Linked DNA regions of Homo sapiens: region 2 is linked to region 1. Evidence: fine-mapped expression QTL. Tissue or cell type: whole blood. Region 1 holds a variant in brackets; the other region holds the start of a gene. All regions are shown on one strand. Distances are between the middles of the regions.

Region 1 (8,268 bases):
AAAAAATAATGGAAAAAAACTTAAAAATCTGCCTAAATAACTTGGCCATCACAGAGAGAGCAGGCCATATTAACTACATGATTTAGTGTTTCAGGTAATACGATCTGGGTTTCAGATATGACCAAAATCCTGGTTATGAACATGGGTGTATGATACTGTAGCCACAGGTAGCATCTGCAGCAAAACTAGCCTGAACTGAGATGTGTTTTCAGTGTTAAATACATACCAAATTTCTAAGATTTAGGATGTAAAACATCTCACTAATTTTTTAGGTTAATCACATGTCTGGTAATATTTTAGATATACTGGATTAAGTAAAATTAATTTTATCTGTTACTTTTCACTTAATGTGGCCGCTGGAAAAACTTCGATGACATATAAGGCTTCCATTACATTTCTAAGGGACAGCACTGCTTTAGAGCCAGAATGTCTCAGTTTATTCCTGGCTTCGGCATTTCTTAGTTATGTGACCTTAAGCAAATTTTTGAGCCTCTGTACCTCAGTTTTTTCAGCTGTAAAATGAAAGTAACTATTCACACCCTCCACTGTTGTCATGAGGAATAAATGTCATGAGGAATAAATGTGCTAATATATGTAAGACATTTACAACTCACTGGCACATGAAAAGTGCTCAATGAACGTTAGCTTCAAAAAAGGTAACTAGGACTATAGCAAAAATTAGGATATAGCTTCTTCCATTCATTAAGCCCATCCTTTTCATTTATTATGAACCTTATCTGAGAATTAAGTTCTTATTAATAAAACCTGTTCTTTCACTATGTCCTGGACCTTTTACAGAAATGGGCTCATGGTTCTTATAATCCTATTGGTCCTGGAATAATTTCCACCAAAAAGATCAAAGGAAAATATATGTAAAAGTACTGTGAAAAACCACAGCACATCAAAGTGAAAAGAAAAACTACAGAATGGGAAAAAAGTATTCACAAATTCTATCTAATATGGATGTAGTACACAAAATATACAAAGAACTCTTATAAAACTCAACAGAAAGACAACCCAATTAAAAAATGGACCAAGGACTTGAAATAGACATTTTTCCAAAGATCATATACAAATGGCCAATGAGGACATGAAAAGATGCTATGTGTTACTAGGGAAATGCAAAACAAATCCACAATGAGATATGTCACTCCATATTAAGATGGCGTGCGCACGCATGCACACTGTCTCACAGATGTTTATATATATATGATATATATGATATATATATGATATGATATATGATATGATATATGATATATATATGATATATCATATATATGATATATATGATATCGATATCATATATATGATATATATGATATATATATGATATATATATTTAATGGAAAATAAGCGTTTAGCAAGGATGTGAAGAAACTGGAACCCATTGCTGGTGGGAATATAAAATGGTTCAGCTGCTGTGAAAAAATAGTTTGGCGGGCTCCTGGGTAGTTACCCAAAAGAATTAAATACAGGTGTTCAAACAAAAACTTATACGCAAATGTTCATAGCAGTCCTTTTCGTGATATCCAAATGGTGGAAATAATACAAATGCCCAACATCAAATGAATGGATCAACAAAATGTGGTAGAGTTGAGCATTCCAAATCTGGAAATCTCAAATGCTCCAAAATCTGAAACTTTTTGAGTGCCAACTTGATGCTCAAAAGAGATGCTCATTGGAGCATTTTGGATTTTGGGATGCTCATCCTGGTAAATATAATGCAAGTATTCTAAAATCTGAAAAAAAAGCTGAAATCCAAAACAATTTCAGATACAGGATACTCAACCTGTATATATATATGATGGAATACTATTTGGCCTTAAAAAGGAACAAAGGACTGATAAGTGCTACAACATGGATGAATGATGAAATCATTGTGCTAAGTGAAAGAAGCCAGGTACAAAAGGCAACATACTGTAGGGTTCTGTTTATATGAAATATCCAGAGTAGGCAAATCCATAGAGACAGAAGACAGACTAGAGATTGCCAGAGGGTGGGAGGAGGAATGAGTAACTGCTTAATGGGGATGGAGTTTCCTCTGGGATGATAAAAATGTCCTGGGACTAGATAGTGGTAATGGCTGCACAAAGTTATGAAGACACTTAACATCACTAATGATAAATCTGACGTTATGCATACGTCACCACAGTAAACATACCCCTGCAGTGGAATAGGTTCTGAGACCATTTAGAGGTCACACAGAAAATTAGAAGATTTAAAAAGAAAAATTGATTCCCAGACAAGGTGCCTGAATAGGAACAGCTCCAGTCTGCAGCTCCCAGTGAGACCAACACAGAAGGCAGGTGATTTCTGCATTTCCAACTGCGGTACCCAGCTTATCTCACTGGGACTGGTTAGACAGTGGGTACAGCCTATGGAGGGCAAGCAGAAGTAGCGTGCGGCATTGCATTACCCAGGAAGCACAAGGGGTCGGGGAACTCCCTCCCCTAGCCAAGGGAAGCCGTGAGTGAGGGACAGACCTATCCAGCCCAGATACTAGGCTTTTGCCACTGTCTTTGCAGCCCGCAGACCAGGAGATTCCATCGAGTGCCTACACCACCAGGGCCCTAAGTTTCAAGGACAAAACTGGGCGGCCATTTGGGCAGACACTGAGCTAGCTGCAGGAGAATTTTTTTCGCACCCCAGTGGCGTCTGAACCTCAGCGAGTCCCAACTGTTCACTCCCCTGGAAAGGGGGCTGAAGCCAGGGAGCCAAGTGGTCTTGCTCAGTGGATCCCATCACCACGGAGCCCAACACACTGAGATCCACTGGCTTGAAATTCTCACTGGCAGCACAGCAGTCTGAAGTTGACCAGGGATGCTCGAGCTTGGTGGGGGGGAGGGGCATCCGCCATTACTGAGGCTTGAGTAGGTGGTTTTCCCCTTAGAGTGTAAAGAAAGCCATCAGGAAGATCATACTGGGCTGAGCCTGCCGCAGCGCCATAAAACTGCTGTAGCCAGACTGCCTCTCTAGATTCCTCCTCTCTGGGCAGGGCATCTCTGAAAGAAAGGTAGCAGCCCCCAGTCAGGGGCTTACAGATCAAACTCCCATCTCCCTGGGACAGAGCACCTGGGGGAAGGGGTGGCTGTGGGCGCAGTTTCAGCAGACTTAAATGTTCCTGCCTGCCAGCTCTCAAGAGAGCAGCAGGTCTCCCAGCACAACGCTTGAGCTCTGCTAAGGGACAGACTGCCTCCTCAAGTGAGTCCCTGACTCTGGTGGTTCCTGACGGGGAGACACCTCCCAGCAGGAATCGACAGACACCTCATACAGGAGAGTTCCAGCTGGCATCTGGTGGGTGCCCTTCTGGGATGAAGCTTCCAGAGGAAGGAGCAGGCAGCAGTCTTTGCTATTCTGCAGCCTCCACTGGTGATACCCAGGCAAAGAGAGTCCGGAGTGTACCTTCAGCAAACTGCAGCAGACCTGCAGAAGAGGGGCCTGAAGGAAAACTAACAAACAGAAAGCTATAGCATCAACATCAACAAAAAGGATGACTACACAAAAACCCCACCCAAAGGTCACCAGCATCAAAGACCAAAGGTAGATAAATCCACAAAGATGAGGAAAAAGCAGCACAGAAAGGCTGAAAATTCCAAAAACCAGAATGCCTCTCCTCCTCCAAAGGATCACAACTCATTGCCAGCAAGGGAACAAAATTGGACGGAGAATGAGTTTGAAGAATTTACAGAAAGAGGCTTCAGAAGGTGAGTAATAACAAACTCCTCCAAGCTAAAGGAGCATGTTCTAACCCAATGCGAGGAAGCTAAGAATCTGGATAAAAGGTTATAGGAACTGCTAACTGGAATAACCAGTTTAGAGAAGAACATAAATAACCTGATGGAGATGAAAAACACAGCACGAGAACTTCGTGAAGCATACACAAGTATCAATAGTCAAATCGATCAAGTGGAAGAAAGGATACCAGAGATTGAAGATTAACTTAATGAAATAAAGTGTGAAGACAAGATTAGAGAAAAAAGAATGAAAATGAGTGAATAAAGCCTCTAAGAAATATGGGACTATGTGAAAAGACCAAACCTATATTTGATTGGTGTACCTGAAAGTGACAGGGAGAATGGAACCAAGTTAGAAAACACTCTTCAGGATATTATCCAGGAGAACTTCCACAACCTAGCAAGACAAGCCAACATTCAAATTCAGGAAATACAGAGAACACCACAAAGATACTCCTCGAGAAGAGCAACCCCAAGACACATAATCATCAGATTCACCAAGGTTGAAATGAAGGAAAAAATGTTAAGGGCAGCCAGAGAGAAAGGTCACATTACCCACAAAGGGAAACCCATCAGACTAACGGCGGATCTCTCTGCAGAAACGCTACAACCCAGAAAAGAGTGGGGGCACACATTTAACATTCTTAAGGAAAAGAATTTTCAACCCAGAATTTCATATCCAGCCAAACTAAGCTTCATAAGCAAAGGAGAAATAAAATCCTTTACAGACAAGCAAATGCTGAAGGATGTTGTCACCACCACACCTGCTTTACAAGAGCTCCTGAAGGAAGCACTAAATATGGAAAGGAAAAACCAGTACCAGCCACTGCAAAAACATACCAAAATGTAAAAACCATCAGCACTGTGAAGAAACTGCATCAACTAACAGGCAAAATAACCAGCTACCATCATAATGACAGGATCACATTCACACATAACAATATTAACCTTAAATGTAAACAGGCTAAATGCCCCAATTAAAAGACACAGACTGGCACATTGGATAAAGAGTCAAGACCCATCAGTTTGCTGTATTCAGGAGACCCATCTCATGTGCAGAGACACACATAGGCTCAAAATAAAGGGATGGAGGAAGATTTACCAAGCAAATGGAAAGCAAAAAAAAAAAAAAAAAAAA[AAG/G]CAGGGGTTGCAATCCTAGTCTCTGATAAAACGGACTTGAAATCAAAAAAGACAAAGAAGGGCATTACATAGTGGTAAAGGGATCAATGCAACAAGAAAAGCTAACTATCCTAAATATATATATACCCAATACAGAAGCACCCAGATTCGTAAAACAAGTTCTTAGAGATCTACAAAGAGACTTAGACTCCCACACAATAATATTGGGAGACTTTAGCACCCCACTGTCAATATTAGATCAACAAGACAGAAAATTAACAAGGATATTCAGGACTTAAACTCAGCTCTGGACCAAGTGGAACTAACACACATCTACAGAATGCTCCATCCCAAATCAACAAAATATACATTCTTCTCAGCACCACGTCACACTTATTCTAAAATTGACCACATAATCGGAAGTAAAATACTCCTCAACAAATGCAAAAGAACAGAAATCACAACAAACTGTCTCTCAGACCACAGTGCAATCAAATTAGAACTCTGGATTAAGAAAGTCATTCAAAACTGCACAACTACATGGAAACTGAACAACCTGTTCCTGAATGACTGCTGGGTAAATAAATAATGAAATTAAGGCAAAAATAAATAAATTACTTGAAATCAATGAGAACAAGGACACAACATACCACAATCTCTGGAACACAGCTAAAGCAATGTTTTTATAGCACTAAATGCACACAGGAAAAAGTGGGAAAGATCTAAAATTGACATCCTAACATCACAATTAAAAGAACTAGAAGGTTGGGCACCATGGCTCATGCCTGTAATCCCACCACTTTGGGAGGCCAAGGCAGGTGGATCACCTGAGGTCAGGAGTTTGAGACCAGCCTGGCCAACATGATGAAACCCTGTCTCTACTAAAAATACAAAAAATTTGCTAGGTGTGGTGGCAGGCACCTATGTAATCCCAGCTACTGGAGAGGCTGGAGCAGGAGAATCACTTGAACCCAGGGAGGTGGAGGTTGCAGTGAGCCGAGATCATGCCATTGCACTCCAGCCTGGGCAACAAGAGCAAAACTCCATCTCAAAAAAACTGGAGAAGCAAGAGTAAACAAATTCAAAAGCTAGCAGAAGACAAGAAATAACTAAGATGAGAGCAGAACTGAAGGAGATAGAGACACGAAAAACCCTTCAAAAATCAATGAATCCAGGAGCTGGTTTTTTGAAAAGATTAACAAAATTGATAGACTGCTAGCCAGACTAATAAAGAAGAAAAGAGAGAAGAATCAAACAGACACAATAAAAAATGATAAAGGGGATTATCACCACTGATCCCAGAGAAATACAAACTACCAACAGAGAATACTATAAACACCTGTATGCAAATAAACTAGAAAATCTAGAAGAAATGGATAAATTCCTGGACACATACACCCTCCCAAGATTAAACCAGGAAGAAGTTGAATCCCTGAATAGACCGATAACAAGTTCTGAAATTGAGGCAATAATTAATAGCCTACCAACCAAAAAAAAGCCCAGGACCAGATGGATTCACAGCCACATTCTACCAGAGTTACAAAGAGGAGCTGGTACCATTCCTTCTAAAACTATTCCAAACAATAGAAAAAGAGGGACTCCTCCCTAACTCATTTTATGAAGCCAGCATCATCCTGATACCAAAACCTGGCAGAGACACAATAAAAAAACACAATTTCAGGGCAATACCCCTGATGAACATCAATGCAAAAATCCTCAATAAAATACCAGCAAACTGAATCCAGCAGCACATTAAAAAGCTTATCCACCATGATCAAGTTGGCTTCATCCCTGGGATGCAAGGCTGGTTCGACATACGCAAATCAGTAAATGTAATCCATCACGTAAACAGAACCAATGACAAAAACCACATGATTATCTCAATAGATGCAGAAAAGGCCTTCGATAAAATTCAACACCCCTTCATGCTAAAAACACTCAATAAACTAGGTATTGATGGAACATATCTCAAAATAATGAGCTATTTATGACAAACTCACAGCCAGTATCATACTGAATGGGCAAAAACTGGAAGCATTCCCTTTGAAAATTAGCACAAGACAAGGATGCCCTCTCTCACCACTCCTATTCAACATAATATTGGAAGTTCTGGCCAGGGCAGTCAGGCAAGAGAAAGCAATGAGGGTATTCAAATAGGAAGAGAGGAAGTCAGATTATCTCTGTTTAAAGATGACATGATTGTATGTTTAGAAAACTCCATCGTCTCAGCCCAAAAACTCCTTAAGCTGATAAGCAACGTCAGCAAAGTCTCAGGATACAAAATTAATGTGCAAAAATCACAAGCATTCCTATACACCAATAATACACAAACAGCCAAATCATGAGTGAACTCCCATTCACAATTGCTACTAAGAGAATAAAATACCTAGGAATACAACTTACAAGGGATGTGAAGGACCTCTTCAAGGAGAACTACAAACCACTGCTCAAGGAAATAAGAGAGGACACAAACAAATGGAAAAACATGCCATGCTCATGGATAGGAAGAATCAATATCGTGAAAATGGCCATACTGCCCAAAGTAATAGTGCTATTCCCATCAAGCTACCACTGACTTTCTTAACAGAGTTAGAAAAAACTACTTTAAATTTCATATGGAACCAAAAAAGAGCCCGCATAGCCCAGATAATCCTAAGCAAAAGGAACAAAGCTGGAGGTATCATGCTACCTGACTTCAAACTATACTACAAGGCTACAGTAACCAAAACAGCATGGTACTGGTACCAAAACAGATATATAGACCAATGGAACAGAACAGAGGCCTCAGAAATAACACCAAACATCTACAACCATCTGATCTTTGACAAACCTGACAAAAACAAGAAATGAGGAAAGGACTCCCTATTTAATAAATGATGTTGGGAAAACTGGCTAGCCATATGCAGAAAACTGAAACTGGACCCCTTCCTCTTAACACCTTATACAAAAATTAAGTCAAGATGGATTAAAGATTTAAATGTAAGACCTAAAACCATAAAAACCCTAGAAGAAAACCTAGGCAATACCATTCAGGACAGAGGCATGGGCAAAGAGTTCATGATGAAAACACCAGAAGCAATGGCAACAAAAGCCAAAATTGACAAATGGGGTCTAATTAAACTAAAGAGCTTCTGCACAGCAAAAGAAACTATCATCAGAGTGAACAGGCAACCTACAGAATGGGAGAAAATTTTTTCAATCTATCCATCTGACAGAGGGCTAATATCCAGAATCTACAAAGAACTTAAACACATTTACAAGAATAAAACAACCCCGTCAAAAAGTGGGTGAAGGATATGAACAGACATTTTTCAAAAGAAGACATGCGGCTGACAAACGTGAAAAAAAGCTCATCATCACTGGTCGTTAGAGAAATGCAAATCAAAACCACAATGAGATACCATCTCACACC
Region 2 (8,000 bases), 52 kb before region 1:
CCCTGATTCAATTCTCAGCTCAACAGTTGCACACCTCAAAGAATCCTTTCCACTTCCCATGATCCTCTATTCCTTTACTAAAGGTTATCATACACTTATCAACTTGTATTTGTTTCTTATTATTTCCTCCATTAGAATATAAACTCCATTAGGGCAAGGACTACTTTTTGCTTCAGCCTATATCCTCAGCTTCTAGAGAAGAGTCTAACACACAGTCGGTGCTACCTAGTGAATGATTAACGGCAAAAGCAGCATTGTGCTATCAAATGAAATGAGATTCATGAAAACATTTTTTAAACTCTGGAGTATCAATCATGTATAAGTTATAATAACACATTATAGTTTAGTAAGTATTTATCAAGCAACTGCTTTTGTGCTAGGTAATGTACTAGGCACTCTAATTACAGAAATAAATAAGACCAAGTTCCTACCCATTCTAGCTGGAAGGTTGGAGGTGGAAACAAAGAGAGGTAAGTGTTATTCTAGAATTATCTCGGCAAGTGCTACTGAAGCACACTCAAGGAAAGGAAAATGTATTCTGCTTGGGGGGACAGGAGTAAATGAAGACTTCATCAAAAAAGTCACATTAAACTGGGATTTGATGATTGTGGTTGGGTTTGTCAGACAAGAGGCAGGAGAAAGGGCTTGACTGGCAGAGGAAAGAATCTCAATGCGTGTGCCCTATCATGCAGTTTGCTAAGCATCTCCCAAAACAGCTGCCTTCTTCACTCCTGCCTTTCTCTCTTACTCCTGAAGCCCCAGGCCTTCTCTGACCTGGCCATCCTGGGTCCTTTTTTTGTGTCTCACTGTGTCCTTTTCCCCACTGGCCTTCAATGGGTCACAGGTTACACCTCCATATAATTCATCCTCTCTCTCTTCAGACATCACGACAACTCCAGACTGTCCATCTTTATACTTCCTGTCACCAACTTCACAGCTGACCAGGGATTTCAGAGACAGTGGGGTGGATTTCTAAAATCCACCTGCATAATAGTTTAATAGGAACAGATATATACTCTTTAATGAAACATTTTTAAATGTTCATGTTGACATAAAAATTCCTCTTATGTAGTTTCTCACAGATTATCAAAGGAGAGGATATTTGCCTTCAGAATTTAAATGAGAATCAAACAAGTGGGAGACAGTGCTTAACACTGAGCAGTCTATATTTAATACATGAATGAATGATTGGATGAATTAACAAATGAGATAAATTAAAACCATTTATGCATGTGTTGTATTTCCAGATCTACTTTTGTAACTTAGTTGTTTTGAATTTGGGATAGATTTTCCCATAGAAACAATGTTGTAAACAGTTCTTAAGTTCCAAGAAATCCCACTAAGGCTGTTTAGCCCATAATGTAGCAAGAAAATGCAGAAAAGTAATGGGATAGCTTAAACAATTTTTGAATGTTGAATACTAGTATTTGAAGAAAAGTAACTTTAATTAGAAGATGAGGTGGTACATGAAAAATGCTGTGATTCCCAAGGGGCTGTCTGAGCCCTTTCAAGGGTTCTGAGGGCACTAACTTCTTGTAATGCATATTTTCAAATTAAAATGTGCACATTTATTTCCCTGGGTATAATACTATCCTTGTACTGTTCTCGCAATCAGGATGAAGGAAGAGCATGAGTCTGGCCGTGAGGAATTAGATTTCAGTGAGAAGAGAGTCTGGGACACTGGATGAGGTAAAATGAACTGAATGGCAGGCGGTATAAAATAGAGGAAAGGGAAGAAATATGGTGTGAGCATGATTCCACCTATAGGGAAGACAAGAGTATGGTGGAGGCAAGAAAGAATAGGGAAGAAAGAATACTGTGGAGGAAAATATGGTAGATGGAGGCCATAAAATGGTTCAGGTCAGGTTGGCGCTGGCCAGACCAAGGGAATAATGGCCTTGGAGTTTTCAAGTGATCAGGCAGCATGCTACTATACTAGACTGTCAGAGGTGTCAGCAATGCAGATTGGGTCTTGATATACCTAAGAGGTCTCTGCAGAATGCAGAATTTATATATTACCATATCCCCTCTGTTGATTTTGGTGACACACATACTGCATGATTTTTTTTTTTTTTTTTGAGACGGAGTCTTGCTCTGTTGCCCAGGCTGGAGTGCAGTGGTGCCCTCTCGGCTCACTGAAACCTCTGCCTCCCGGGTTCAAGTGATTCTTCTGCCTCAGCCTCCCGAGTAGCTGGGATTACAGGCGCATGCCACCACGCCCGGCTAATTTTTGTATTTTTAGTAGAGACGGGGTTTCAGCATCTTGGCCAGACTGGTCTTGAACTCCTGACCTCGTGATCCACCCATCTCGGCCTCCCAAAGTGCTGGGATTACAGGCGTGAACCACCACGCCCGGCCAGTCTTATTAACTTCTAAAGAAGGAACTTCAGAAACCCTTGCCTTCCGTGTAAAAAGGTGTCACGTTCCACTTGCCAGTCTTCTTCCATCCCTCTCCCTTCCTTCTTTTCTTCCTCTGGCGTTTACTAACTGACCCTGGGCAGACCACTTATTTCTCTGGGTCCCATTTTCTCATCTCTAAATGACAACACTGGAACCTAGATTATCTAGCCCTTCCAATTCTAAACATTTGATTATGAAATTCTCCAAAATCACAAAACATAAACCAGGAGGACGAGACCTAATTATGACCACATCAAATAGCTGTGGTTTCCAAAGTGGTTATTTCTGATTATCACAGACGAGTCAGTTATCCAGCTTTTCTCCTCTTTTCTTTGTTCCCATAGCATAGGCGACCTCTTTGCTCTCAGAGCTGTTTCAGGGGCGTCGAAATTTATCTAGAAAAAGTGGTGTGGGAAGTGTGGGTTTTTCCTTCCATTAAAAGAAAAAATCTGTTCGCTCCTTCAACTCAAAAGGCTTTCTGGGTAGCCATAAGCAGATAAAACCTTATCTTTCTACCCTCGAGTTCCTCTTTTGGACTTCATATGCATTGACTTGACGGACCTTCAGCACAGAGAACAAACACCCGAAGGGTTCCCTCAGCAACGGGACTGGCACCCAGAGCCCCCCGCTCCCCGCGAGCCGGCGAGCGCAGGCGGAAGCGCGGGCGCCACATTTCCGGTGTCGGGACCGGAGCTCACCACACTTCCGGTTTCCCTGCCGGGCGCGCCACACTTCCTGTTGATCCGGCTCGGCCGGGGGCTGGGCCGGCGGGCAGGCGGCGGCGGCCACTGGCCAGGCGTGGACGCGCGCGGGGCCGCCGCGGGCACGGAGTGGCCGCCGCGTCGCCTGAGCCCAGAGCCGGGGAGTGCTCTCGGCCGCCGCGTCTCCTGCCCTCTGTCCTTCCAACCCAGCCCTCGGCTGAGCCGCGCCGCACCATGCCCGCCGTGGACAAGCTCCTGCTAGAGGAGGCGTTGCAGGACAGCCCCCAGGTACCTCCCGCCGCTCCGGTGCCCCTCGCCCGCAGGGGTGAGGCCGAGGAGGCCCCTCCAGCCCCGGAGTGGAGGCCGCGCCCCCGGCCGGGCAGCCGCGGGAGTGCGCCCGGCCCCCTCGCGGCGCCTCCCACCGGGTTCTCTCGGGCTGAGGAGGGGGCGGGCCGGGCCCTGAGTCCTGAGCCGGGGCAGAGCTGTGGAACAGGGGAGAGAGCCCCGCGGCCGGAGTCTTGATGTCGTGACCCCCCTGCAAGCTCAGCTGCAACTGAGTCTGCGAGATCTAAACTTTGATTCCATGTAGTAGCTGAGTGCCTCAGGAAAACCACCTTATTGTGCCTTAGTTTTGTCGTCTGTAAAATAGGAATAATAATTGTGCCTGCTTCATAGGGTTGTTAGGAGAAGTCAATGAGAAATACCTGTAAAGTTGTCAGCAGACAATGTCCGGTACAGATAATGAGTCAGTCTTATTACTGCTACTCCTAATGATGTGATGAGACTTGTGCCAGCCAGAATGAGAGGCAGAGGGCCTGGATCTCTTTTCCGGCGGTACCAGGCCTCCTTTTGGCACCGTTTTCCCATTAGTGAAGAGAAAAATACAGTACCTGCCCCATTTGTCGCACAAGGGAACTTCATTAGCACACTCGAGATGAGAGTCAAGTCCTTTGAGCTCTGCAGATGAAAACTGGTGTGTAAATATAGCAAATGAGTGCAGGATGACATTAGTTCATAATTCAGCACATCTTTCCCCAGGGGTCTTTTGTTCTCCTTTGTTTAACATTTCTCCAGCTTCGTACCTACACTCCTGGTTCAGCATCCCGGGTTTATTTAAATAAGTGCCTTTATTTCCTAGTGTCTCAACTCTTGAAAACTTAGAATAAGATTAACCTATTTTCGTTTCACACTTTCCCCTCTCTTTTGGGGTTCCTTCCCTTTTTCTTCTAAGTGAATAATACTTCCCAGGATGATCCTTGTATGGATTTACCTACATCGACAGTTCAGAATAAGTCCGAAGGGCTGTATGCATAGGTGTCTTTTGTTCATTTTTTGTGATCCTCCTAGTGTAGATAAGTAAGGAACTGGAAGCAAGCTGTGTGTGTGTTTTTTGTTTGTTTGTTTTGTTTTTTGGTAAGTTTGCATCCTCTGGACGACTTTTTCAAGGCCTCCCTTTTTTATATGGCTGTAGACTCCTGGCATTTTAATCAGACTAAAGCCCTTGGTAGAAGGCATTTTGTCCATGTTCATATCTGTTGTGTGGAATCTGAAGATAGCAATGTGAGATTTTAAATGATCACTTTGAACAAGGATCTCTGTTTGCCTTGCACTTATGGAAACTGAGGTGCACAGAAATATCCTGCTTTTCTAACCTACATGGTGATGCCTAAGCCAGGTTACAGTGATTATACTAACTGATTCTTGATGTTGTCCTCACAAACAGATCATATTCTTAATTTCCAGCTCTAACATAAAGGAATATACACTGTTTGTGAGTGGCTTAAAGGATTTGCCCAGCTGTGAGGAAGTAGACAGGACTGTAGAGCAAGTCAGGAGACCTGGGTTCTAATTCTGGCTCTCACGCTCACTTAGGATGTGATGTGGGTGAGTCTCTTCATCTCCACCCTGTAGCTGGCTCAGTTTCCTAATCTACAGAACATCTACAGAATGAGAGACAGGGAGGGAGCAGGTGATCTTCAAGGTGCTTTAGAGTTAACATTGTCATATCTACATGGTGTATAACTTTGAACTTGTATGTGGCAGAGGAGGTTTAGAGATATTATCATTCTTATTTAATATGTTCCTTTTAATATAGGAAGTTTATTTGTCATTGCTTTTGAGACTTGGCCATCACCCTTAAGAGGGCTCTTGATGGTGCTGTTGTGCAGAATGGAAGCTGACTTTAAGAAGGTCTTTAATGATCATCAGAGCATATTTATATACTACTCTCTTGTATGTGACCTGTGCCTAATGTAGCTTTACTCCCAAGGTGACTCCTAGACTTGGAACTGGAAGGAATCTAATCCATCCCCTTCATTTTATGTGCAAAGCATAAAAACAATAGCAAATGCCTGTTTCATGGATTTTATGTGCCAGGGACTCTTCTAAATGCTTTACATATATTAACTCACTCAATCCTCCCAATAGTCTTGAAGTACATTCTCTATTTAAATAACTAAGGAGCAGAGAAGTAATTTGCTTAGAATTATACACCATAAAGTGACAGAGCCAGGACTGGAACCCAGGCAACTTGCCTGTACTAGGGATATGGTTCAAGTTAGCCCAGCTATCTAGCACCGGGCTTTTCTGTCATCAGTGACCTAAAATGTTTCACTAAAAGGAAAAGATCCTAATAAACCATCTATTGTGTGTTTCTTCTAGTTTTATGAAGAGTAATTTTGAGAGTTGCTTCAGTAATGTGATTGCACAGGATGAATTAAATGAACACCAAAGCTTTTGTAATTGAACTGAGTGACCCAGGAAGAGCTGAATAGCAGTTAACTGACCTTAGACACATCTATTCATGGACTCCTTTTTAGTTTGCAGTGCTGCACGATGCATTGTAAAACTAGTCTGTGTGCATACACATGCGTTATTTCTGCTTACCTCTCATATGTGGGAAGCTGAACATTTTAGGGATTAAGAAATCTGCCTCCATTGTTGTTTAGAAGCCTCTGCTCCTTGCCTGGCACTACTGGCTGTTGGGAATGTGAAGATAAATAAGAGTGACTACCCTTGACTGGTTCACAGTTTGTTCCAGAGACAGATAATGAGGCAACAGTTCCAGTACAGTGTGAATCCTGCTGCGATAGGAACACAAATGCAGCTTTGAGCTCCTGCAGCTTGTACTTCTTCAGGGGCTTATTCTCTTGTCCTGTAAGTAGTACACTTTTGAGGTAAGGTGAAGACAACAGCACTGTTGCTTGCTCGGTTTGTGTTTTGTTTGTTTCTTTTGCGATTGGCATAACGGAACAAAGAAATAAAAGATGTAGTTCTGAGGTTATGCAGTTGAGTGGCCCGGCTGGGAGCAGCCCTCTCCAACCAAATCAGGCCTTTCTTTCCTCAAACAAGATAATCTCAAAACATAACCTGGTGGTTTTATATGTCTTCACTGTGGAGATGTTTTGTGCTGTTCCTCTTTTTGTTTATAACCTATTTTTCCTTTCAATAGACTTGGTTCTTTTTTTTTTTTTTTTTTTTTTTGAGACAGGGTCTCGCTTTGTTGCCCAGACTGGGGTGCAGTGGCATGAACACGGCTCACTGCAGCCTCAGCCTCCTGGGCTCAAGCGATCCTCCCACCTCAGCCTTCTGAGTAGCTAGGACTACAGGCATGCATCACCACGCATGGCTAATTTTTTAATTTTTGTAGAGACAGAGTCTTGCTGTGTTGCCCAGGGTGGTCTTGAACTCCTGGGCTCAACCAATCTTCCTGTCTTGGCCTCCCAAAGTCTTGGTTCTTTTCACTAGGACATTCTCTTCCTCCACCAAATTATGGAGATAAGAACTTTGTTTATAACCTTAAAATTTTCTCAGTAGTCAGTGGTGTTAACATTGGGCCACTACACAATTACACACACTATTCTTGAGAATGTCTAGGAGTGTTTTATTAGGTAATACCCAGTTTCTTTAAGGTAAAGGAGTGATAGGGAGCTGAGGCTGTGTGCATAGGGTGCTTGGATTTGTTTCTCTGGCCGAGCATACCCTTAAAAGTGTCGGGCAGTAGAAAATGGATGGAATTCCACTCCTGAATCTGCTACTGTTACTTTTGGCAAGTTACTCAATCTCTCTGAGGTTGTGTTTGGAGGTATGTAAAATAAAAATAAAAATAGCTATTTAGTTGAGTTGTTAGGAAGAACAAGTAACATATGTAAAGTGTCTCCATGCTGGCATGCCATAGTAACCCCATAAATGATTGCTGTTGTTATCTTTGTAAGTGAGATATACCAGTGTCTTTCTGACCGTGTCTTTCTGACCGTGGGATTTTGAGCTACTGGTGTGCCTTTGCTTTATTCTTGGTCTCATTCCTTCTTTATGTCTCAGAATATCTCTGTTGTTCCAAACCAAAGTTTGAGCAGACACAGTATAGTAAATGAGGATAGCCAGTGTCCAAGGTAGCTGGTTATATTTTTTCCAGAGGTGATCACTGCCAAGTTAAATTAAAAAGGGAAGACCAGAGTTTCCCTGTCAGTTCTAATGGGCATCACAGTTGCATTTCCACGATATAAGGAAAAAGGACACTTGTGATGTAGTTCTCTGGCAGGTATTGTGGGCGGGAACATGGTAGTAGCATCCAGCTCCAGTCTGCCCCTGTCCTGCCTCCAGTCAGGGCTGTACGCTGTGGACCAAAGATCATGCTCGCTGATGAGAGCCACCCTGCTGGTGACCTCAGTGCTGCCGACCCATTTACATCCCAGCCCTGCCACATTCCTACAGTGGGAGGTTGAACACATTTCTTAACCTTGATGAGCCTCAGTTTCATCATCAGTAAAATGAAGTTAATGGAACCATGGAATCTACCTTGGAGAGTTGCTAGAAGAATTAAATGAAGTCACATATGTTTAGTGCCCAGCACAGCGTCCAGCACATAGGTGGTACAGAGTAAGTGGTAATTTTAGTTTT

What was found. PIP is the estimated chance that this variant, and not a neighbour inherited with it, causes the effect.
Region 2: it holds the start of APPL2, and the variant in region 1 is fine-mapped to the expression of APPL2 in whole blood (INTERVAL, PIP 0.95).

Annotation. Positions count from the first base shown.
Region 1 is chr12:105,179,680-105,187,947 of GRCh38, reverse strand. The region is part of intron 17 of APPL2 (adaptor protein, phosphotyrosine interacting with PH domain and leucine zipper 2); the gene reads left to right. Among named protein-coding and RNA genes, the nearest start is that of APPL2, 52 kb to the left of the region's middle. The variant AAG/G (reference allele first, on the strand shown) is at 4,876.
Region 2 is chr12:105,231,348-105,239,347 of GRCh38, reverse strand. APPL2 (adaptor protein, phosphotyrosine interacting with PH domain and leucine zipper 2) reads left to right here and starts at 3,174. Exons shown (of 21, transcript NM_018171.5): 1 at 3,174-3,389. The coding sequence starts at 3,336. RefSeq lists an enhancer at 2,791-3,291 and silencers at 3,156-3,295, 3,346-3,595.